Regions from separate parts of the Homo sapiens genome. Here all the other regions are linked to region 1. Evidence: fine-mapped QTL for protein levels in blood plasma. A gene starts in region 1. Each other region holds a variant in brackets. All regions are shown on one strand. Distances are between the middles of the regions.

The links. PIP is the posterior inclusion probability: the model's chance that the variant is causal. Protein levels are from antibody-based Olink assays in UK Biobank. Linkage for the fine-mapping came from a reference panel and not from the study's own genotypes, which makes the PIPs less certain.
Region 2: its variant is fine-mapped to the plasma level of the CSF1R protein (UK Biobank, PIP above 0.99). The variant lies in the coding sequence of CSF1R. If it changes the protein, the assay may bind it differently, which can mimic a change of level.
Region 3: its variant is fine-mapped to the plasma level of the CSF1R protein (UK Biobank, PIP above 0.99).

What each region holds. Positions count from the first base shown.
Region 1 is chr5:150,082,594-150,091,735 of GRCh38, forward strand. CSF1R (colony stimulating factor 1 receptor) reads right to left here and starts at 3,961. Exons shown (of 21, transcript NM_001288705.3): 1 at 3,786-3,961. The coding sequence starts at 3,834. RefSeq lists a promoter at 3,834-4,266 and an enhancer at 4,019-4,048.
Region 2 is chr5:150,068,415-150,076,414 of GRCh38, forward strand. It overlaps CSF1R (colony stimulating factor 1 receptor), which reads right to left. Exons shown (of 21, transcript NM_001288705.3): 6 at 4,887-5,079; 7 at 2,042-2,157; 8 at 1,768-1,888; 9 at 1,459-1,649. Among named protein-coding and RNA genes, the nearest start is that of CSF1R, 14 kb to the right of the region's middle. RefSeq lists an enhancer at 1-233. The variant T/C (reference allele first, on the strand shown) is at 2,155.
Region 3 is chr5:150,061,379-150,067,315 of GRCh38, forward strand. It overlaps CSF1R (colony stimulating factor 1 receptor), which reads right to left. Exons shown (of 21, transcript NM_001288705.3): 11 at 345-471; 12 at 113-217. Among named protein-coding and RNA genes, the nearest start is that of CSF1R, 22 kb to the right of the region's middle. RefSeq lists a silencer at 3,457-3,632 and an enhancer at 5,583-5,632. The variant C/T (reference allele first, on the strand shown) is at 2,357.

The DNA.
Region 1 (9,142 bases):
GCAGCAATCTAGGGCCCCCAGGCCGGGGTTTTATAGCAGGAAACAGCTTGGAGTGTGGGCTCACACCAACTTGGGTTTGGATCTTGGTTCTTCCCTTACCAGCTGGGTTAGTTTCTTAACCTCTTTGAGCCTCAGGCTATTCTTCTGTCTGATGGGAATAATCCCAGCTCCCACCCCAAAAACTTCAGCTGAAGGTTGAGTGAGATGATGTATAGAACTACTCCTGCCCTGGGCACCTGCTTTAATTGCTACATTTCTAATGTCCCTTCTGGGCCAACTCTGATCGCTCAAGATTTTAACCTTGGATTCTGTGATTCCATTTGTTCCTTTTTTACACCTGCCTCACACCTTACAGTGGGCTTCTCCCATCCCTTCCCCCAGCCTGTCTCTCTAGACCCTGCCTTGGCCTCCAGGAAATGTGGTCAGGGAGCGGTGTCTGCCCTATTTTGTCCTATCCTATTGTCCCAGGTATTCACGCAGGATAAGGCTGATACCCGCAACTTCCGCAGCCAACTTCCCCTGCTGGCTTGGCTAGCAGGGAAGGAAGCCGGCTTGGCCCCCATCCTCCTCGGGGTGGGGGCATGGGCTTATGAACATTAACTGAGGTCCCCTTCTGTGCCTGTCCATTCTTCCCCCCTCTCATCTCCACTCCCCAATTCTCCCCATGCCCCACACCTCTCCACTAGCTCCCACTTGCCTGGAAGCCCCTCCCTCATCACTTCCAGAATGTGCCCCAATCTCTACTCTTCTCTCCCAACACACACACACACACACACACACACACACACACACACACACACACACACACTGCACACTAAGGCTGGACACAGCCCCTCTTCAGCCCAGGATCTCATCGCAGTAATGAAGAGAGAGCCCCCCTCTCTCTCTAGGGTCCTCCAATACCATCCCCAGTCTCCTCACAGTGGCCCCTCATCCACTCATCATTGGTCTGTTGGGCTGAAAACTTAGGTTTCCAGCCTCCCCATCTCTTCTTTCTCTTGGGACTGGACCCTGGAAAACCATCTGGCCCCCCTCCCACACACCATGCCCCTGTGAAGGGAAAATAAAAACTTGGGACCCTAATTCACTCTGCCAAAAGGAAAAATCAAGCTGGAAACTGAGTCATGCAAGAAGCTGCCTTGCCTTTTATTCCTAAGCAGATAGCGACAGATAAAAGGTAAAATATCCCACAGGCAGCTCCTCTATGTTCACTTTCCCTATGTAAAGAGCCAATTTACTGAACCGAGATAATTGACTGTTCCCCTACCTGCTGCTTTTCTTTTGCAACATGTGGATTACCACAACCTCCCCTTTTCCCCTCCAGCCCACTTTCCCCTTTAAATATTAAAGCCCTCGAATTCATCCAGAATGGCACAGACCACAGAATGTTTTTGTGACTCCATGTTTTTTTCTCGCCAGCATGTCCTTAACCTTGGCAAAATAAACTTCTAAATTGATTGAAGCCAGGCACAGTGGCTCATGCCTGTAATCCCAGCACTTTGGGACGCCAAGGCAGGGGGATCGCTTGAGTTCAGGAGTTCGAGACCAGCATGGCCAGCATGATAAAACCCTGTCTCTACCAAAAATAAAAAAATTAGCTGGGTGTGGTGGCAGGCACCAGTAATCACAGCTACTCAGGAGTGGCAGAATTGCTTGAACCCCGGAGGCGGAGGTTGCAGTGAGCCGAGATCCATGCCATTGCACTCCAGCCTGGGCAACAGAGCAAGACTCGGTCTCAAAAAGATAGAAAAAAGAAAGAAAGAAAGAAAGAAAGAAAGAAAGAAAGAAAGAAAGAAAGAAGGAAGGAAGGAAGGAAGGAAGGAAGGAAGGAAGGAAGGAAGGAAGGAAGGAAGGAAGGAAGGAAGAAAGAAAGGAAGGAGATGGAGTCTTGCTCTGTCGCCTAGGCTGGAGTGCAGTGGCATGATCTCAGCTCACTGCAACCTCTGCCTCCCGGGTTCAAGTGATTCTCCCACCTCAGCCTCCTGAGTAGCTGGAACTACAGGAACCCACCACCACACCCGGCTAATTTTTGTATTTTTTAGTAGAGAGGGGGCTTCACCATATTGGCGAGGCTGGTCTGAAACTCCTGATCTTGTGATCCACCCGCCTCGGCCTCCCAGAGTGCTGGGATTACAGGTGTGAGCCACCATGCCTGGCCACAAGACTCCATCTCAATAAAAAAAATAAAATTAAATTGAGACCTGGCTCAGATACTTTTCCGTTTTTGCCCCACAGGCAGGTTGTGGGTGTAAGGATAGGACAAGGCAGTGAAATCAAACCTGTGGGACTCTCTGAGATGAAGGGGGTGGCGGGTACACTGTGTGTGCATTTGTCAGACCTCATTGAACTTAAGAACCTGTGCTTTCTACTGCATGTAAGTTACATTGCAAAATAAGAAGTCCAGGCCGGGCGCCGTGACTCACACCAGTAATCCCAACACTTTGGGAGGCCAAGGCAGGTGGATCACCTGAGGTCAGGAGTTCGAGACCAGCTTGGCCAACATGGTGAAATCCCATCTCTACTAAAAATACAAAAATTAGCCAGTCATGATGGTGTATGCCTGTAATCCCAGCTTGGGAGGCTGAGACAGGAGAAACACTTGAACCCGGGAGGTGGAGGTTGCAGTGAGCCGAGATTGTGCCACTGTACTCCAGCCTGGTGACAGAGAGAGACTCTGTCTCAGGAAAAAAAAAAAAAAAACCCAAATACTCAAGCTCAGTGTGATTGCCTGGGCCAGAGAAGGATGGTCAGTGGGCCATCTCCTCCTCATCAGGGACCAGAAGCGCCACGGCCTTAGGGTCCTTCTGTGAAGAGGCCAGTATGAGGCTGTCCTTTCTCCCCTTCAATCCCCATCCTCCCCCAAGGTCCCTTTGAATAAGCAGGCAATAGAAATGTGTTTGTTGGGCCAACAAGCCAAGCACAGCAGCCCCTCACCTCTAGTCATGTTCCCTCCCAGATGGAAATTCTGCAGAACTGCTACAGCCTGGGGACCTCCTGAGACTTGGCAGCCTGTGTCTGGGAGGGCTCTGGTCCAGGAGACCCTCACTGGCCTCTTCCCAATCCCTCCTCTAGCCCTATACCTATTTCACCCCGAATTCCCCTCTCCTGAGCCCTGGGCCAGAGAGGCCAACCTCTTGTCTCTCCCCTCTGACCCCTTACACAAGCCACCCAAGGAAGAACCACCACCCCTATCAGGCCCTTCCAAATCAGATCTTGCATAGAATCATCGAATCACAGGCTGGCAGAGCTGCCAGAGCCATCAGGAGCTCTCCAGGTCCTCCCAACTCAGTGTAGGTCTGGACCAGCAGTGCCGGCATCTCACATCTCCCAGGAGTGTGTTGGATATACAGAATCTCAGGTCGCACCTGAGACCGACTGAGTCTGAATCTGCATTGTAACAAAATCCTCAGGTAACTTGTATGCACAGGAAAGTATGAAAAGCACTGCTCTGGTCTAGTCTATCACTGTCCCCCTGCCCCCAACACCTGCAATTGAATAGAAGTGGACACTGAAGCCTCAAGAGTATCAGAGGCTTGCTCAGGACACACAGTGAGTCGCTGGCAGAGCTGGGACAGATCCACAGCACCAGGTGGACCAGTTCCACCACACCCATCTCTTTTCACCCCACTACCTCTCCAAAGCAGATACCCACAAGCCTGCAGTCCAGTGTTGGGGAGACTAAAACAGCCTGAGGACACCCAGTGAGGGGCAAGGACTGAATCCTTTCACAGGGGTCTTCTCCATCACACCCCAACAAAGTCCCCCACCCCCCGTTCTGCTCTTACCATGCCAAGCTGTGGCCACCAGCAGGAGCAGCAGAACTCCTGGGCCCATGGCCTCGGTGGGGAAGTGGCAGGCAGGTGCAGGGCTGCAAGGTGCCCAGGGCACAGAGCTCTCAGCTACTAGCTCCGCAGGGATCGGGACACTGGACACACGTTCCTCTCCTCTGCACTGGCTGTTTGTCTTGTTTTCCTCTTCCTCCTCCTTGGGCTGATCCTCTTCTTCCCCTTTTAGCTAGGCAAGGCAACCACAGAGTTTGGAAATCTTGGGTCTTTAAGAAGAAAACAAAGCCTTGAACCCAAGAGGGAGGGGTCGCAGTCTGGGGCAGGGCCAGCCTGAGCTTGGGGGGAGCTAGCTAAGTTTGGGGCCCTTCTAAAGCCATCTTCAAGGGGTCTTGGGAGAAGAGACATGTCCAAGAGCAGCCAGACCGTTAGTCAGTAGCACAAATGAGGGTCTTCAGAGTGATCAGGTGGCTCTGGCAGATCCCAAAGAGAAGTTAGGTTGCATGATATTGTGACATATATATTTTTTCTTTACCCTGATGTCCTGGCTTACAACTCCTAAAATCCTTGGAATCTCCAAAGTAATGCATATCTTTTAAAAATTTATTATTATTATTTTAGAGACGCAGTTTCACTCTGTTGCCCAGGCTGGAGCTCTGTGGCTCGATCATAGCTCACTGCAGCCTCAAACTCCTGGCTCAAGCCTTCAAGCTGTGAGATCTGACGTTATCTCTAGGTAAATATAGTGTTCAAATTGAATCGGAGGGCACCAGATTCGTGTCTGCTGCAGAATCTGAACAATTGGTTGATTGCTTGGTGTATGGGGAAATATGCCCCATCCTCTACATCTGGGGTCAGAAGTATTTTGTGTTGTGAGACTATAGGAGAAACGGAGTTTGTTTTCTTCCTGTATACAGGTTGGTCTGGGAGAGCCTGATAATATTGGCAATAAGCTTCCTTTTACAGGACATTTACTAGCCAAACCTTTTACATTCACTGTCTCCTTTAGTACTGCAAAACTTTATGTAGGTAAGTACTATTGTCATTCTCATTTCACAGATGGGAAAACTAAAGCTCAGAGAGATCAAATGCCTTAAGCTTGTCCATAGTCAAACAGCTACCAAATGGTGGAGATAGGATTTGGATCCCAGCAGTCTGGTTATAAAACTATCTTTTGTGCGTTACTTACATTGTTTATTTATTTTTACAAAGAATCTAATTGTTCTGCATAATTCTTAAAATATATAGCATTCCTTTGCTCCCTCTTTTCCTGGAGGCAATTGCTTTTACCTCTTTTAGTTGATTCGCTTAGTATTTTACTTCTTATCTCTAAAGAACATGGTCATTTCTTCTTCTTTTTTTCTTTTTTTTTTTCTGAGACAGGGTTTGGTTCTGTCACCCAGGCTGGAGTGCAGTAGTGTGATCTCGGCTCACTGCAACCTCCACCTCCCGGACTCAAGCCATCCTCCTACCTCATCCTCCTGAGTAGTTGGGACTACAGGGGCATGTGCCACCATTCCTAGCAAATTTCTGTATTTTTGGTAGACATGGGGTTTCACCATGTTGTCCAGGCTGGTCTCAAACCCCTGAGCTCAAGTGATTCGCATACCTTGGCTTCCCAAAGTACTGGGATTATAGGTATGAGCCACTATACCCAGCCTAAAGTTCCTTCTTGAAATTGAAAAATCCTGATATAACATTGATCCAGGAAAATGATCATTCCCGTGTACTCAGGTGTGTGTGTGGTGTGTATGTGTGTGTTTGTATGTATATTTATGAGTGTATATATGTACTTTCTTTTTCAGAAAAGTGTTTTGAACCTTTAGCAATCATGAATGTCAATCAAAGCTGACTCAAGAAGAAAAAGAAAATCCAAATAAACCTATAACAAGAAAAGAAATTTAATCAGTAATCAAAAACCTCCCGACAAAGCAAAGCCCAGGACCAGATGGCTTCACTGGTGAATTCTCCCAAACATTTAAAGAAGAATTAATACCAATCCTTTTCAACTCATTCTATGAAGCCAGCATTTTTCTGGTACCAAAGCTAGACCAAGACATTGCCAGAAAAGATAACTACAGACCAATACAAATGCATGAATATAGAAAGCAAAAATTTTCAAAAATGTACTAGCAAACCAAATCTTTTTTTTTTTTTCTTTCTTTCTTTCTTTTTTGAGACAGGGTCTCACTCTGTCACTCAGGCTGGAGTGCAGTGGAGCAATCTCGGCTCACTGCAACCTCTGCCTCCCGCGTTCAAGCTATTCTCGTGCCTCAAACTCCCGAGTAGCTGGGATTACAGGCATGCGCCACCATGCCCAGCTAATTTTTGTATTTTTAGTAGAGACAGGGTTTCACCATGTTGGCCAGGCTAGTCTTGAACTCCTGACCTCAAGCAGTCTGCCCATCTTGGCCTCCCAAAGTGTTGGGATTACAGGCGTGAGCCACTGCACCCAGCCACCAGCAAACCAAATCTAACAGCATATTAAAATGATTATATACCATGATGAAGTGGGATTTGTCCAAGAAATACAACAGTGGTTTAACACATGAAAATCAGGGTAATACATCACATTAATAGAATGAAAAAAATCCTCATATGATCATGTCACTTGATGTAACTGTAAAACCCAACATGCTTTCATTAAAAACAAAACAAAACAAAACCCACCCAACAAACTAGCAATAAAAGGGAACAGCCTCAACGTGATTAAGGGCACATGTGAAAAAGCACAACTAATTCAATGGTAAAAGACTGAGAGCTGGTCCCTTTACATCAGGAACAAGACAAAGATGCCTGTTCTCGCCACTTCTGTTCAACATAGTACTGGAAGTCCTAGCCAGAGCAATCAGGAAGAAAAAGAAACAGAAGGCATCCAAATTAAAAAAGAAGAAGTAAAACTATCTCTGTTCACAGATGACATGATCCTATATATAGATAAATCCTAAAAGATCTACAAAAAGCAACTATTAGAGTTAATATACAAATTCAGCAAACCTGCAGGATACAAGATCAACATACGTAACTCTATAGTACTGATAATACTCCAATAAGGAAATTAAGAAAACAATTTAATTTGCAATAGTATCAAAAATAAAATATTTTGGAATAAACTAAGGAGATGCATGACTTTACAATGAAAACTACAAAACACTGTTGAAAGAAATTTAGAAGACCTTAATAAATGAAAAACCACCTTGTTTTCATAAGTTGGAGGATTTAATAAGACAGCGGTACTCTCAAAGTGAGACTGATTTATAGGGTCAATATAATCCCTATCAAAATCCCAACAGCCTTTTTCTGCAGAAATGGAAAAGCTGATTCTCAAATTCATATGGAATCTCGAGGGACATTGAATATGCAAAACAATCTTGGAGGAGTCACACTTTTCAATTTCAAAACCTACTATAAAACTACAGAAATCAAAATAGTGTGGTATCAGCATAAGAATAACTATATGGATCAATAGAATAAAATTGAGAGTCAGGAAGTAAACTCTCACATTCATGGACAACTGATATTCAACAAGGGTGGCAGGACCATCCAATGGAGAATGACCAGTTTTTTCAACATAGGTGCTAAAAGAACTAGATAGTCACATGCAGAAGAATGAAGTTGAATCCTTATTTTACATCACATATAAAAATTAACTCAAAATGAATTAAAGACCTAAATATAAAAGCTAAAATTATTAAAACCTTAAAAGAAACCATAAAGGTAATATTCATGACCTTGGAATTGGAAATGATTTCTCAGATATGTTTCTAAAAGCACAAGCAACCAAAGAAAAATTGGACATAATAAAAATTAAACATTTTTGTGCATCAAAGGACACTGTCAAGAGAATAAAAACACACAGAATGAATATTTATATCCACAATAAATAAATATATCCAGAATATATACAGAATGAAAGTTGTAGTGTTTCCTCAGCAAAAATCACTCTTGGTGCATAGTTCTATGAGTTTTGACAAATATATATAACAATGTAACCACCACTGTAGTCAAGATATAGAACAGCTCCATCACTCTAGAAAATGTTTCTCATGCTGCTCCTTTATAGTAAAGCCCTCCCCAAACCCCTTACACCAAACAACCACGGATCTGTTCTCCATCCCTGCAGTTTTGCCTTTTCCACAATGTCTTTGTGCTTTACAGGATAATGTCATATAAATGGAATCATACAGTGTGTAGCTAAAGAATGTATGTAGAATCACGCAATATGTAGCTAAAGCCACTCTATTGTCCCTCACAATTAATAAATATTTATGGGAAAATAAATTTTAAAAAAGAATGAAAGTTGTAGTGTTGCCTACAACAACAAAAAAACAATTAAATTTAAAAATAGGCAAATTCAAATATTGCATGTCCTCACTTATAAGTGGAAGCCAAACAAAGGGTCCACACGGATATAAAGATGGAAAGAATAGACTCCAAAAGTGGAAGGATAGAAGGAAAGGGGAAAGGGCAAAAAGGAAGTGAAAAATTACCTATTGGGTACAGTGTTCAGTATTTGGGTACTGGGTACACTGGAAGCCAAATTCACCATTATGCAATGTACCCATGTAATAAACATGCACATCTACTCCCGAGTCTAAAATAATTTTTTTAAAAAACAGGCAAAACATTGAATAGATATTTCTCCAGAGCACATGAAAAAATACTCAATATCATTAGTCATTAGGGAAGTGCAAATCAGAACCACCTTGAGATACCACTTCATATCTACTAGGATCATCATAATAAAAAAAATCGGATAACAAGTGTTGGTGAGGATGTGGAGAAATTGGAACCTTTGTACAATGTTGGTGAAAATGAAAAATGGTGCAGCTGCTATGGTAATCAGTTTGACAATTCCTCAAAAAGTTAAACATAGAATTGTCATATGATCCAGAAATATCACTTCTAGGTAAAACCAAAAGAATGGAAAACAGGGACCCAAATAAATACATGCACGCAAATATTCAACGCAGCACAATTTACAGTAGCCAAAAGGTGGAAACAGTTGACAGCTAAACAAAATGTGGTGTGTCCATACAATTGAATATTATTCAGCTATAAAGGGAATGAAATACTGGTACCTGCTACACTGTGGATGAACCTTGAAAACACTGTGTTAAGTCAATGAAGCCAGTAGCAAAATGTCATACGACTCCATCTATATGAAACATCCAGAACAGGTAAACCTGTAGAGGCAGACGGTTGACGAGTGGTTACCAGGGGATGTGGCAAGGGAGAATGGGGAGTGATTGCTTATGAGGAGGTGGTTTTGTTTTGGGGTGATGAAATGTCTTGGAACTAGATAAAGGTGATGGCTGCCCAGCATTGTATTTGTCCTAAATGCCGTTGTACACCTTAAA
Region 2 (8,000 bases), 15 kb before region 1:
GTGGGTGCTCAATAAATGCTTGTTGACTGAATGAAGCATCCTCCACTGGAAGCCTCTGGAGCCTCTCCTGCACACCCTCCCCGAGAAAGGCAGAGAGGACGGCCTCTTCAGCTCTGCTCATGCCCAGCCCCAAACCCTGTCCAGAGTCACAGCCTCCTGTGGCTGGGGGTAGGGAGCCTCTGGGGTCATGCAGTCTCACCCTCTGCCAGTGCAAGAAACCTCTCTGCAGCGGCCTGGCCTGGTGCCCAGCCATGGCTTGCATGCACTACACCTCCAGGAAGCTCGTTCAGAAAGGCCTTCTGGAGGTCACACTGCAACCTTCCTCTCCTGCATTTCCCCTGCAGCTTCTCCACATGCCTTTGGAATCATACAGCCCTTCTGAGGGTCTAGCAAGCCAGGCTTGTGGCCCCTGAGTCTCCTCTTCCCAGAATCTATACTACTAGTTCTAGTGATGTTTTGGAGAACATAATTTCCACTTCCTTGCTCAGATCAGTAACTTAGATCTGCAGTCAAGTTTCACCTGTGCCACTTGGGAGCTGTGTGACATTGAGCCTAGGGAAAATTCTATTTATTTCCTAGGTTTGTAGGAGTTAATCGAGATAATCCCCACAAAGAGCTTAACACAGTGCCTGGCGCAGCAGAAGCCTTCAACAAAATGTTGGCTTTATTATAATATACAACCTCCAGCAGTGAGGCCCAGCGCGGCCGCAGGCTCCTGCTTGCAGCTGGACCCTGGTAGCAGTTGCTCCAAGGCCAGCAGCTGGGGACGTGAGTGACCACCCCTGAGCCAGGCAGATGCCAGGGTCTGGCACACAGTGGGTGCCAGAGCCTGGTTGTCAAAAGCCTGAGGATGCTGTGGGCCTCTGAGAATCACAGAACTAGCTGGTAAGGAGCCTTTGTGTAAAGCAGAGAGGCAGCCTGTGTTGTGCACAGGGCCGGGCATCATCCCCCGGGGCAGCCTCTTGCACAGCAACCTCAAATGGATAGACTGTGTCTGGAGCAAGAGGGGAGAGTTGGAGAAGGCCGTCCTTAGCTGGCCCCGAGCTGGAGATGGACTGTTTCCTTGCTCATTGCCTGCCTCCCTCATCAGCCTCTGAGCTCTGGGGAGGCACTGCTTCCCTGCATAGGGCACGTCCCTGGCACACGGTGCATAATGCCTGCACATACTTGTGAATAGATGCATGAGTTAGAGTGCAGGGACAAGAGTGGGGGCCAGTTTCTTCAGGCTGCTTTCTCTCTGCTTTCTCAGAGACTACCCCGTCCTACTGCTTCGGGGGACCTGCCAGGCAGGAGGGGCTTGGACTGGCCCAGAGAGGTGGACCTTGGTACTGCTAGGATCTGCTCCAAAGGTGGAGCCAACCCCAGCTCCCTCGGTGGGGGGTGGGGGAGGAGCCGCCTAAAGGAGCAGGGGCGGGGGGCGGGCGGGGGGGCGGTGCGGGTGCGAAGGCTCCCTCTCACCTGCAGAGATGGGTATGAAGGCCCAGGAGCCACTCCCCACGCTGTTGTGGGCCCTGCACTCGTAGGTTTGGTTGTGCTCTAAGGTCTCAACAGTCAGCAGGCTCTGCACCGTCACCTTGTGGAAGGGCTCCTGGCTCAGGACCTCAGGGTATGGGTCATCCCAGACCTGCAGCACTTGGGCCTCATCACACCTGGCAAAAGCAGAATGTGGCTCAGAGCTTCAGGGTTCCCAGCGCCAGCATGTCCCTCCCACTCACAGGGTGCCCAGCCCCTGAGCCCAGGTGAGGGAGGTGAGTGGAGCCCACTTACCTATCAGTGTGGCCACTGCACTGCAGCCATGTCACGTTGGGCTGGGGGTACCCAGAGGCAGCACACAAAAGGGTGCCAGAGCCGTTGATGAATGTCCATATGACGCTTACCTCTGGGGGGTCTGAGGAAGAAAGGAGGAGGCCCCAAGTCACACTTTCCCCGCCACCTCCCAATCTCCCAGTACCTACTTCCCTGTGCCCTGCCCCAGTCAACCCCATCCCTCCAGGCAGTCCCAGGGCCTCCGCCCCAGGTGGCGCTCGGCCCCAGCACTCACATCGAAGGGTGAGCTCAAACGTCAGAGCTCTCCAGCCTCCTGGGTTTCTGGCCAGGAAGGAGTAGCGGCCAGCCTCAGAGGGCTTCAGGCGGGGCAGAGAGAGGGTGAAGGTG[T/C]GCCTGCAGGAGAGAATCAGGTGGTGTTGGTGAGCCCCAGCCTAGTATGGCCCCTGCCAGGATTGCAGTCAGATAACAGCCTTAAAGGGGTTTATTTTATTTTTGGTAAAATATTCAGGGCCCAACGGCCTTGGGTAAGCCAGATACTCAGACAGGGTGCCATTGAGACATGCAAAAACCACCAATCCCATTTCCTTAGTTGGTTTTCTTATCTGAAAGTGTTTTTTTCCCGAGGTTTAATAGAGGTGATGTCTTCAAGGTGCTGGGAGGCCTATCACAGGTCGCCTACGTTGACCACTGTCACTGGACTAAGCTTTCATGAAAGCTGCAATCCCTGCTACAAATCCCTGAAGTGCCAACCTTGCCAAGAGGGACTGAGAAAGAGACAAGAGGCAGGATGTAGGGCCCTGGGTTCTGAGCCATGTTGCTGCAGAGACTGGGGTTCAAGTCCTGGTGCTGCTGTTTCTTGGCTGTGTGATCTTAGACAAGTACTTAACCTCTCTGATCCCTCACTTCCTTTGCTGTGAGAGTGATATCGATGGTTATTAATTCACAGGCTTGGCTTGAGGATTAAAGGACCTTTTTAGGGTGCTTGACACAGAAGTTGAATCTTTGTGGGCACTCAATTCAATGGTACCCTTTATTACAGAAAAGGCCCTGGAGCAAAAACTAACAATAAAAATCATCTTTGGCTGATTCTGGGAAATTTTTTGTTTTATTCTTTCTTTAATCTCTATTTTACAATTTGTCCATAATGAACATGTGTTGTTTAGGTAATAAATACATTTTTTAAAAAGTCCCCCAGTTCACTGTCAAAATAAATAAAATTTTAAAAATTATAGCAAATGGCCAGTTCTTGCTTGGGAAATGTCTGCAGCTACTACTAGACTAAAATCTATGGTATTCAGAGAGCAGTCTCATCCAGCCAGACCCTGGGCATATACAAGGCCTCTGCCCAGGTCACTTCTTGAGATAACTAACCCCTTTAACTAAAAATAATTTGACTTTTTTGGATAATTGAAAGTCACCATTATGAACAACCCATCACATGAACTAAAATTCTGTGGCTGTTTGGTGTCCAGGCTTGTCTGCCTTGTGCTGAATGGGCCCAGACTACTGTGTTTTAGGGGATCTCGTGTTCCTTTCCTCAATGTCTCTGTGGCTTATGGACCCATTAAACCGATCCATGGACCAGCCCCCTCCAAAGGGCCTACACATTCCAGATTCAGAACTTCTGCTTTAAATGAGAGGAAGACAGAGACCTGGCCAGAAAGGACCAGAAGGGAACTGAGAGGAGGAAGATGAGGACAAGAAAACATCCTTGTTGCTTCTGACAATTGACAAGCAAGATTGTGGGAATCAATGAGGTTTGGGCTTCCAGAGCTAGAACGAGAATCCCAAAGAGTTTTGAAGTTGTCTAAGGGATCCACACAGGGATGACAAACAGATCTCTCATGAGCCAACTATGCTGGAAATACTGCCTGGGACCTGTGTTGAGGAGGACTCTGAGGCCGCATCTACACTCTGCAGAACAGAGTTGCAGAAACAAGAATGAGAGTGAGTGTGGCATGCACACCACGTATTCGCTGCCCTTAAGCTGTACTGTCTCCCTCTGAAAGGGCAGGGTATGAATGATTATTTCAGGCCAGGCACGATGGCTCACACCTGTAATCCTAGCACCTTGGGAGGCCGAGGCAGGCAGATCACCTGAGGTCAGGAGTTCGAGACCAGCCTGGCCAACATGGTGAAACTCTGTCTCTACTAAAAATACAAAAATTAGCTGGGTGTGGTGGTGGGCATCTGTAATCCCAGCTACTCGGGAGGCTGAGGCAGGAGAATCACTTGAACCCGGGAGGCCGAGTTTGCAGTGAGCCGAGATTGTGCCATTGCACTCCAGCAACAAGAGCAAAACTCCATCTAAAAAAAATAATAAAAAGAAAGAAAAGAAGGAACTATTTTAATACCTGAGTTAATACCTGATATACCTGGTATGAGTGTTCCTCTTAGGCACAAAGCTTTCTTATTTAGAACCTACCTGCTTAAGCCACTTTGGATGAGAAAGCAAGACCCCAAGAACACAGTTCACAAGCAGACAGGAAAAAGATTTCTAAAATGTGTGTGGAATACACAGGATTGTGGGAGTGGAGAGACGGAAGAAGAGGGGTGTGGAGTTATTATAGATTGCACTTCATGGGAAGAGTTTTGAGCTTACAGAGAAGAGCAGCCAGTGAGAAATTCTTGGGGCTGGGTGATCACAATCCTTTAAAGAACATTTCATGTATCTGTGATTGTGTGATCTTAATTCCCTCTTCCCCTCCCTCCAAGCTTTTGTATGTAGCAGATAACTTGTGCAGTCATTATCAGGAGTGTGTCTATGAGTGGGGCTGTTTTCTGCATTTGGATTGGCCCCAAGAGAGGAAAATGAATGAGGCTGAGGGTTCTTGAGGGACCAATGAGAATGCACACTCCCAAGAAATGGTAGAATCCTTGGGTGGGGCATTGACTATCCCAAGGATGTGGGATGGAGAGGTAGGTCAATTTCATCTAGATCTCAAACACAGATGACCAATATTGGGATTCCATGAAGTCAGGGAAAGCGAAGCCCAGAAAGGGGCAGGGACTTGCTCAAGGTCATACACCAAGGTTGGGACATGAGCCAAGCGTCCTGATGCTTGCTGAAGCATACCCCATCTGGTTGTCGGGCTGTGTAGACGGGAGCTGATAAGTGGTACCTGTATGTGTCCTTGGTGGTAGCATTAGCAAGCTTGGGCTCAGGCTGGTGGTCAGAAAAGGGTCCCAGGTAGGTCCAGTTAAAACCTTGCAGGCCTGGGTAGGCCTCCACCATGACTTTGAGGTTGAGCCCCTCCCCCACGGTCACCTCCTGGATGAGGTTCTGCTCAGAGCTCAAGTTCAAGTAGGCACTCTCTGGAAAGCAGAACACACAAGCATCTGGCATTAGTGGGAAGATGTCCTTGTTTATTTGTCCATTTTGTCATCCACCCATTGATCCAGTCCCTGAGCAGCTATGTCACAGGTACATAGTCCCCACCACCCAAGACAGGTCCTCTGACACCCCTCTTCTCACCACCCCCTTCAGAATCCCTGGATCAAAACTTTTCTCACTGAAGCCCTAGGAGAACCTGGGCAAATCCCTATCCCCATTTGTGCCTCCATCTCCTTATTTGTGTAATGAAGAGATTGAATATATCTGTGATTTTCCAAGTTTTTGAAAAATTTTTGGCAGCAAGAAAACACACACACACATACACACACAATTTCACGTGTCCTCATCCATTTCCCTTTCTTCTGGTCATAAATTAGTCAATGCGGCTTCCAAATATAGCTCTGGAGTAGGTGTGTAACCCAGGCCAACCAGTGAGGGTACTCTGTCCCCTCTGGCCCGGTGATTGGTTTGGGTTACCATGAATCCATGAGTCCATAACACTCAATTCCATGATTTTTGTTAAGACTCTGGGAAAAGAGAAGCCCTCATTTTACTGGTGTTGCTGGATCAGATACTACAAGGCGGATAGTCGGAGTCCTACAAGGGGAAAGCCTTCCTGGCAGGGCTGAGAGTTGGGGAGTCATAGATTCTTTCCAGCATCAGCTGAACACCTGGATCCAAGTGTTCCTGAAGCTGATATCCATGAGCTTTTTAGCTATAAGGAAAAAAATCCTTTTAATTAGGCCAGTTTGAGTTGGTTTCTATTACTTGTATCTGAAAGAGTCCTGACTAGTTTTTTTTTTTTTTTTTTTTGAAACAGAGTCTTGCTCTGTCATCCAGGCTGGAGTGCAGTGGCACAGTCTCTGCTCACTGCAACCTCCGCCTCCCAGGTTCAAGCGATTCTCCGGCCTCAGCCTCCCGAGTAGCTGGGACAACAGTTGCATGCCACCACGCCCAGCTACTAACTAGTTTCTCCTAATGACATTTTGCACAGATTGTAATACAGCTGCTCTTGTTGAATCTCAGGCAAGGGAATTGTGGCAAGAACCCCAATTCACTCAGCCTCTCCGTGCCTGTCATGGTAGCCCCTGACATGCCTTCTTAAAACCTCAGGGCTCTGCCACAAGCCCTGGACTAGATGATTTCTAAGAGCTCCTCTCCTTACTCTATTCTGTCTAAAAATCTGAAATTCACCCTTCTACACTGATATATGTCTACTCAAAAGCCCTCTATGGAGTCCCATTGCCTCCATTATTCAGCGTGGCGTTCAAGGCTCTCAATCAAATCAGGTCTCACTGTGCTCATCCAGCCACCTCCCCTCTTCCTTCCTACACACACACACTCAACGCTCCACCCATCTGGGTCTCCTAACATCCCTGAACACACCATAGTCATTCCAACCTTGGAGGTTTTGCTCAAGCAATTTCCTCTACCAGAAATCCCATCCTCCTCCTTTTCATTATAGAGGCCCCTTTATCCTTTAAGATTCACCCCCATGAGGGAGTCTCTACTCAGTGCTCCAGGACACAGGAACCTCTCACTCCACTCGACTTTTGCTGCCCTTCCAGACTACACACTCATTAGGCACCACATCTGCACTGCTTCATGCATCTGGTTCTCCCTCCAGGTAGCTTTCTTCTCTCTCCAAGTAGTCTGTGAGCTTTTGGGGGCAAGGCTTTTCTCTTCTCTGTCTCTCTCAACAATCCATCTATCTATTATTCATCCATCCATTAGTCCATTCATCCATCCAAACACCAACAACTTCCTGCTGCCTTCACCATTACCACTCTAGTCCACCCACCATCAGCTCCAGCCTGGACCACTGCGGTAGCCTCCTTTCATCTCACCTTCCCACTTTAGCTCTCTGACCTCATCTGAGACCACTTTTTTTCTCACTCTCTCCCCGCAGCCACACTGGCCCACTTGTCCCCTGAACATGGCAAGCACAGTCCCGCTGCAGGATGGAGCTCCCTTCTCCAAAATGGCCGCATGGCTTGCTCCTTCAGCAATTTAAGCCTTTGCTCAAATATCAGCTTTCTAGTGAGATCTTCCTTGGTGAACACCCTATCTGAAGCTGCAAATGCTATATAATTTGTTTTTTTAATAATTTACTTGGCTCATTGCTTGCCCACTCCCAGCTAGAGCACACACTTCATGAGTCGGGGGTTGTTGTATCTGTTTCACTTGCAGCTGTATCCTCGATGTCTAGAACAGTGTCTGGCCCAAAGTGTGAATGAACATAAACATTTCTTGAGTGATGACTGTATGCCTGTACTAGAAAGCAGACAGGATTAGAAGCCGTAACTGAATTCTTGTGCTTTTGCTCTTCTTCCCCTTTACCCTGCCAAAGCTCCCAGTGCAGATTGGGGTCCACAGCAGAGCTCACAATCTGCTGCAAGTCCAGTGCCTTGCACATACTCTAGGGGCAGTGATGCTCATGATTCTCATGCTCCTCGCCACCTCCATCTCCCATAACATTCAACACATGAGGCACGGCCAGACCTAAATGTCTCAGAGCCTGCTCCCACTCCGATGAGCTGCTGCCTTGCTTCAGGGTCTGAGTCCAGTGACTGCCACTGCCTGCACCCAATCACCATAGCCAGAGACCTGGAGGTCATCCTTATCTCCTTTCTCTTCCTCATCCCTGCATCTCAGACTCTTCCACACACCACTGGCCATCTTCAGCCCATTCTCCAGCCTCCAGGTTCCCACCCAACCCACATGGTGCCAGACTGAGCCTTCTCAGATACTATCTCCTGGTGCACACTTGGACAGCATTTCCTGTGTCAGACCCTGTTCTAAGTACTTCCTATCTATCTATCTATCTATCTATCTATCTATCTATCTATCTATCTATCTATCTAATCTATCTATCTTCTATCTATGAAGGCAGTTACTGTTA
Region 3 (5,937 bases), 23 kb before region 1:
CCCAGGCTTCAACAGGTTGAAATGTGTGTGATGCCTCTTGTGACACCAGGGCCAGCCCACCCCCAGCATCTACCACCCCCCATCCCTTCCCTCATCCCCTCCCCTCACTCACACTTCAGCATCTTCACAGCCACCTTCAGGACAGCATCCTCCTTGCCCAGACCAAAGGCCGTGGCCTCCACCACCTTCCCAAAGGCTCCAGCTCCGAGGGTCTTACCTGCCACGCACACAGGTCCCTTAAGTCCCTGGGCACCAAAGGGCCTCTGTCCAAGGGCCCATGGGCTCCCTGCAACCCCCACAGGCCCTGTGATAGGAAGCTGTGGAGTGATGAGCTGCCATCTCACCAAACTGCAGGTTGTTCCGGGGGAACTCCCACTTCTCGTTGTAAGGCAGCTGCGTGGGGTCGATGAAAGTATAACTGTTGCCCTCATAGCTCTCGATGATCTTCCAGCGGACCTGGTACTTGGGCTTCTGCAGAAGAGGAAGGGAGCACGTGGCAGTCGGGGCTGGCAGGCAGTTCCTGGACCTTGTTTCTGACCCCCAAGAGCAGGGGTGTGGGCAGTCCCAAGGCGCCCAGTGGGAGAAGGCAGGGCAAGGCCTGCTCTGGGCTGAGAGAGGTCGTCTCATGAACATAGCACTGAGAGCATGTTCCTGCTTGACTCTGCCTTGTTGTGTGACCTTCCCTTCTCCAAGCCTGTTTCACTATTTGTGTATTGAAGACCTTGGACAAGACAACCTCTGAGGGCCCTGATATCTCTGATAATCTGGTAATTCCTGAGCCAGGAGGGAGGGTGGAACTTGAGATCTTATCCATCCGTTCATCTGTCCATCCATCTACCCATCCATCCACCCACCCAACCTCCCATCCAAATATATATATATATTTTAATTGTGATAAAACATACATGAAATTTACCATTTCAACCATTTTTAAGTGTATGGTTCAGTAGTATTAAGTAAATTACATTCTACCTTGTGCAACCAGTTTCCAGAGCTCTTTTCATCTTGCAAAACTGAAATTCTGTTCCTGTTAAAAAGCAACTCCCCTTTCCCTCCTCCAGCCCCTGGCAACCATGATTCTGCTGTCTCTGTGAATTGCACTGCTCTAGGCACTGCACCTCAGTGGACTCACACAGCATGTGTCTATTGAGATTGCCTTATTTCACCCAGCATAATGTCTTCAAGGTTCATTCATGCTGCAGCACAGGTCAGAATTCCCTTCCTTTTTAAGGCTGAATAATAGTAGCCCATCCACATACTTTCTTGAACATCTATTTGTGTCAGGCACCGCTGATTCAGAGTTGAACAGGACAAAGTCCCTGCCCCTCCATGGAGTTTGCATTCTAGTGGCTGAGAGAGGCATTAAACGCAAATAAACATGTATCTAGGAGATTCTCAAGTGGTGCTATGAAGAAAATAAAGTAAGATAAGTCAGGGAAGGCCCCTAAAGAGCCCACCATGTGACCATCAGAGGAAGAATTTTCCAGGAACAGTGCATGGAAATGCTGTATGCTTGACATGGGAATGATCCTGGCAAGTTTGAGCTATAGGAAGGCAGCCATCATGGCTTGAGGGAAGTGGGGGGCAGATTCCAGAAACAGGAAGGCCTTGAGGGCTATGATAAGGTGAGTGGGTTCCCTTTTGGGATTTTTTTTTTTCCAAGACAGGATCTCTGTCCCCCAGACTGGCATGCAGTGGGGGCAGTCTTGGCTCACTACAGCCTCGACCCCCGAGGTTCAAGCAATCCTCCCACCTCAGTCTCCCAAGCAGCCGGGACTACAAGCATGTGGCACCACACCTGGCTAATTTTTGTAGAGACGGGGCTTTGTCGCAGCCTAGGCTGGTCTTGAACTCGTGAGCTCAAGCAGTTTGCCTGCCTCGGTCTCTCAAAGTGCTGGGATTACAGGCATGAGCTACCATGCCTGGCCGGGCAGTGAGAGACCCTGAGAGTTTGACACAGGTGAGTCGCCATCTGACTTTTTTTTTTTGAGACAGAGTCTTGCTCCTTCACTCATGCCGGAGTGCAGTGGCACGATCATAGCTCACTAGGCTCAAACTCCTGGGCTCAAGCAATCCTTCTGCCTTGGCCTCTCAAAGTGCTGGGATTATAGGCGTGAGCCATCGCACCCAGCCTTGACTTTACCTTTTTGAGAGAGAAAGAGAGACGCTGCCCACTAGATAGATTCTGGAGGACCAGCACCTTTGGAAAGACCTGATTTCCTTCCTTAGGCTCTCCATGCTGTTACCACCCAGCCAGGGGAGGCAAGCCCTGGGATGTGGGGAGGAGGAATGGCTGCCCCTGTTTCTTGCCCAGGGGTCAGCTGCTGAGGGGGAGTACCATGCTAAGGGTTGCCCA[C/T]AAGAAATGCTGATGGAAGACCAAGTTGAGGGGGAAAGTGGAAGCTGGGCTGGGGCGGTGGAGGACACTGAGGCCCTGGGTCAGCAGAGCAACTCTTTCCGGCCAGGCCTTGGGGATGGGACAAGCTTGGCTGTGCCTGCAGCTGGGCTCCTTCCCTGGGCACCCGAGCTAGAAACTTAAAGGAAGTGTGGACCGGTGCTAGGGAGGAGGCTGGCCTTTAGCTGCAAGTCCTGGTTGAGAGAGAAGATTCCAGTCATGTCCTTTGCAGCAACGTGGTGCAGCTGAAGGCCATTATCCTAAGCAAATTAACACCGAAACAGAAAACCTACATACCGCATGTTCTCACTTATAAGTGGGAGCTAAATATTGAGTGTGCATGGGCATAAAGATGGCACCAACAGACACTGGGGGCTACTAGAGCAGGGAGGGTGGAAGCGGGCGAGGGTTGAAAAACTATGGGAGCTATGCTCAGTAGCAGGTGATGGGATCCATATTCCAAAGCTCAGCATCACGAAACATACGCATGCAACAAACCTGTACGTCTATCCCCTGAATCAAAAATAAAATGTGGACATTTTTAAAGAGAGAGACAGGGAGAAAGCTTCCAGCTAACCATCAGGAAGAACTTCTAGCTGGTAGTTAGAGAGAAAAGACTGCAATTAGAAATGAGAAGGAACTAACTTCCAGGCTCTGATTCGGAAGGGCGGACTGCAGGTGAACTTCAGAGCCTCTGCGTTATAGCTTGGGAGAGAGTCTGAAACGGGACCCAGGGAGAAGAACTTCCCAAGCCTCTGAGGATCCAAATCCTGCCCGTGGGTGCCTTCCCAGCCCAAAAGACAGCAACAAGGCAAGGAGGGGATTCTTCAGCCTCTCCTGGCCACTTCCATCTCTAGGAGCCTCTGTGGCTAAGACTGTTTTTTCTTACCACTTCTTGTTCCTCTGTCCCTCTGCAGCTGGGCTGAGTCAGCCCCTCCCTGCCCCCAGCTGGGCAGGGGGCACTGTTGAAAGGGAGGGGATCAAGGAGGATGGAGGTTTGGCTGGATTCTCAGATTTCTGAATCCTAGGCTCCTAATTTCTGGAAGCGGACCAAGCTGCCTTCTGCCTGCCTCAGGAACCCTCCCCTGCCCCTGCTGGGCATGTAAACCTCCCAGGGCACCTGTGCCATCCCTGGAAAGGGCTCATGGGCGTCTACCCAGAGGCAGCCTCTCTTCCAAAGAACTATGAGTGAGAGATCAAGAGGTGGGGATGGGCGAGGCTCCCTGAGAAGGGTGGACGTAATTGTCATGATGGCAGCGGGTTCTTCCTGAGCTCTTCCTGGGAGTGGGGCGCTGGGCTAGATGCTTGAAGCACATCACCCCATTCATTCCTTGCAATGGGCCTAAGCCCCAGGCCCACCCCCTGACTTCTTCCCTTCCTCCCATCCTCCCCACCAAAGGGGGCATGGAGACAAAGTCCCGGTCCCCTCCCCATCTAGGCCTGCTGGTTCTGGGTGAGTGGATGTTCTCCATCCCAGGAAGGTGGAGATCTGAACAATTCCCAGTGGAATCTTTGGGGACCCTCCTGTTGCTCCTCAGAGCTCAGTTCCAGCCCCCAGAATCGTAGTCTTTCCAGCAGCCTCCCTGGACCCTCCCTTCCCTGCTGCCTCAGCCATTTCCCTGTGCGCCTCCTCCTCCAGGGGAGCCTGCTGACTCCTGCCCTTTTCTCTTCCCCCACGGCCCCCCTTGTGGTCACTCTGGGGGACAGAAAGGTGATGATTCAGCCCTGAGGCAGAACAAACACTCCCCACAGACAGGCCACTTCTTTCCCCAGGCCTGGGCAATGAGGAGAGGCTGGGCTGAGTCCCCAGTGAAGGGGCAAGGCTCCGAACCTCATGGGGCAAGGCAGAGGAGGATGGGAGGGCAGGCACTTAGCACGGGCATGACCATCCTGCCCCCTCCGCTCCCATGGGTGGACACCTCGGCCTGGAGCTAAAGGGTCTGTGAATGGGTGTAGGGGAGGAGGGTAGCTGCAAGTCTTCTCGCAGCCTTGCATGGGCTCCAGGGGCAGCTGAATTTCCTGGACAGGAAGTGTGGAGGTGACATGTTCCAAAAATGGTCCCGTGGAGAGGGGATACAGAGTTCCTAAACCACAGCCAAGGGGGCTGGCCAGCCCAAGGCAGAAAGGGCCGCAGGGGGCCCTAGGCTCTTCTCTGGAATCTCTGCATGACTGTCCTGGCAGCTCTGTGGGCACTGCGAGGCAGTTTTCAGTTCCATGTAAGGAAGAACTTTGCAAACATTGGAGCTGCTCAGAGAAGGAACAGGTGGCCCCGAGAGTGAGTAAGGTCCTGTCCCTGGAGGTGGGTGGGCTGGGCCAAACAACCGCTTTGGGTGTGTAGTCAAGGAGATGATGCCCGACCTCAGACCTCCCCCTCCTTCCACCATCCCAAGAGGCATGAGCTAACTCTGGTTCCCCAACGAACTTCCTCCTGGGACAAGAGTGTGCAGCTCCCATCACAGAGACTGTCTCGTCCAGCACCCCGCTCAGTCCTCTATGTGCGTTGTGGTACGGAATCCCTCACAACAGGCTGTTAATGATCCCATTTTACAAATGGAGAAGAGACTCAGACACACCAACTTTCTCATCATCCCATAGCCAGAGCTTGGCAGAGGCAGGATTTGGACCCAGATTCACTGAAGTCCAAGTTTCTGGTGCTTAAACTAGACCACCAGTGGGCTCTTGGCATGTCAGAGGAGGAGGGGCTGTTAGAGAACACCCAGACCCATGGTATAAGAGGGGAAACTAAGGCCCAGAGAGGACAGCGAGTCAGCTGAGGTTACATGGCAAAACAGTGTCAGAGCTGGACCTAGATCCGGAGGTATTGACCGGGGCTGCCCTCAGAGCAGCCTTCTCATGCTGAGTGCTGGCAGGAGTAGAGATCCCGATCCATGTGCCCCTGGGGCTCCCCCAACATCCTTCCCACCCTGCCCACTTCAAGCCCTCTTCTCACAAAAGCCCCAAGGGGGTGTGGGGAAGAAAAGGTAGCCAAGGGGACACAAGATGGGTCATTCAGTCCTTGATCACACCACTCCCTTGTTCAAACCCACTGATGGCCTTGGACCGACAGGGTGGGGTCCAACCCTTCAGACCCCCAACCCCACCCTGGTCCTTCCCTCACCTGCACCTCTGCACACTCTGCCCTCTCCCCCAGAGGTACCCTTTCCCTTAGTGTCATCTCCCCTGCTGCATCCTCATCCTCCAAAGCCCGTCCCACCAATGCCAAGCCACCTCCTCCAGGCAGTCTCCCTTACCCACCAGCCTGAAAAGTCCGTCCACCTCTGAACTCCCACAGCCCTCTGGCCTGGTCCTCTCAGCTTCTGATCACATTGCACATGGTCTTTGTGTGGGCAGGCAGGCAGTGGAGGCCATGGGCTCTAGGGACAGAAGCCCCTGGGGCCCAGTGCCAACCCTATCCCTCAGCCCCTTGGGGTTTTTTTTTTTAACCTTGCTGAGCCTCAGCTTCCTGATGGGTAAGATACTGACTAGTATACTTCCTGCCTCCAGCTTCTTGTGAGGGTAAAATAAGATGAGTCAATGTTTCACAT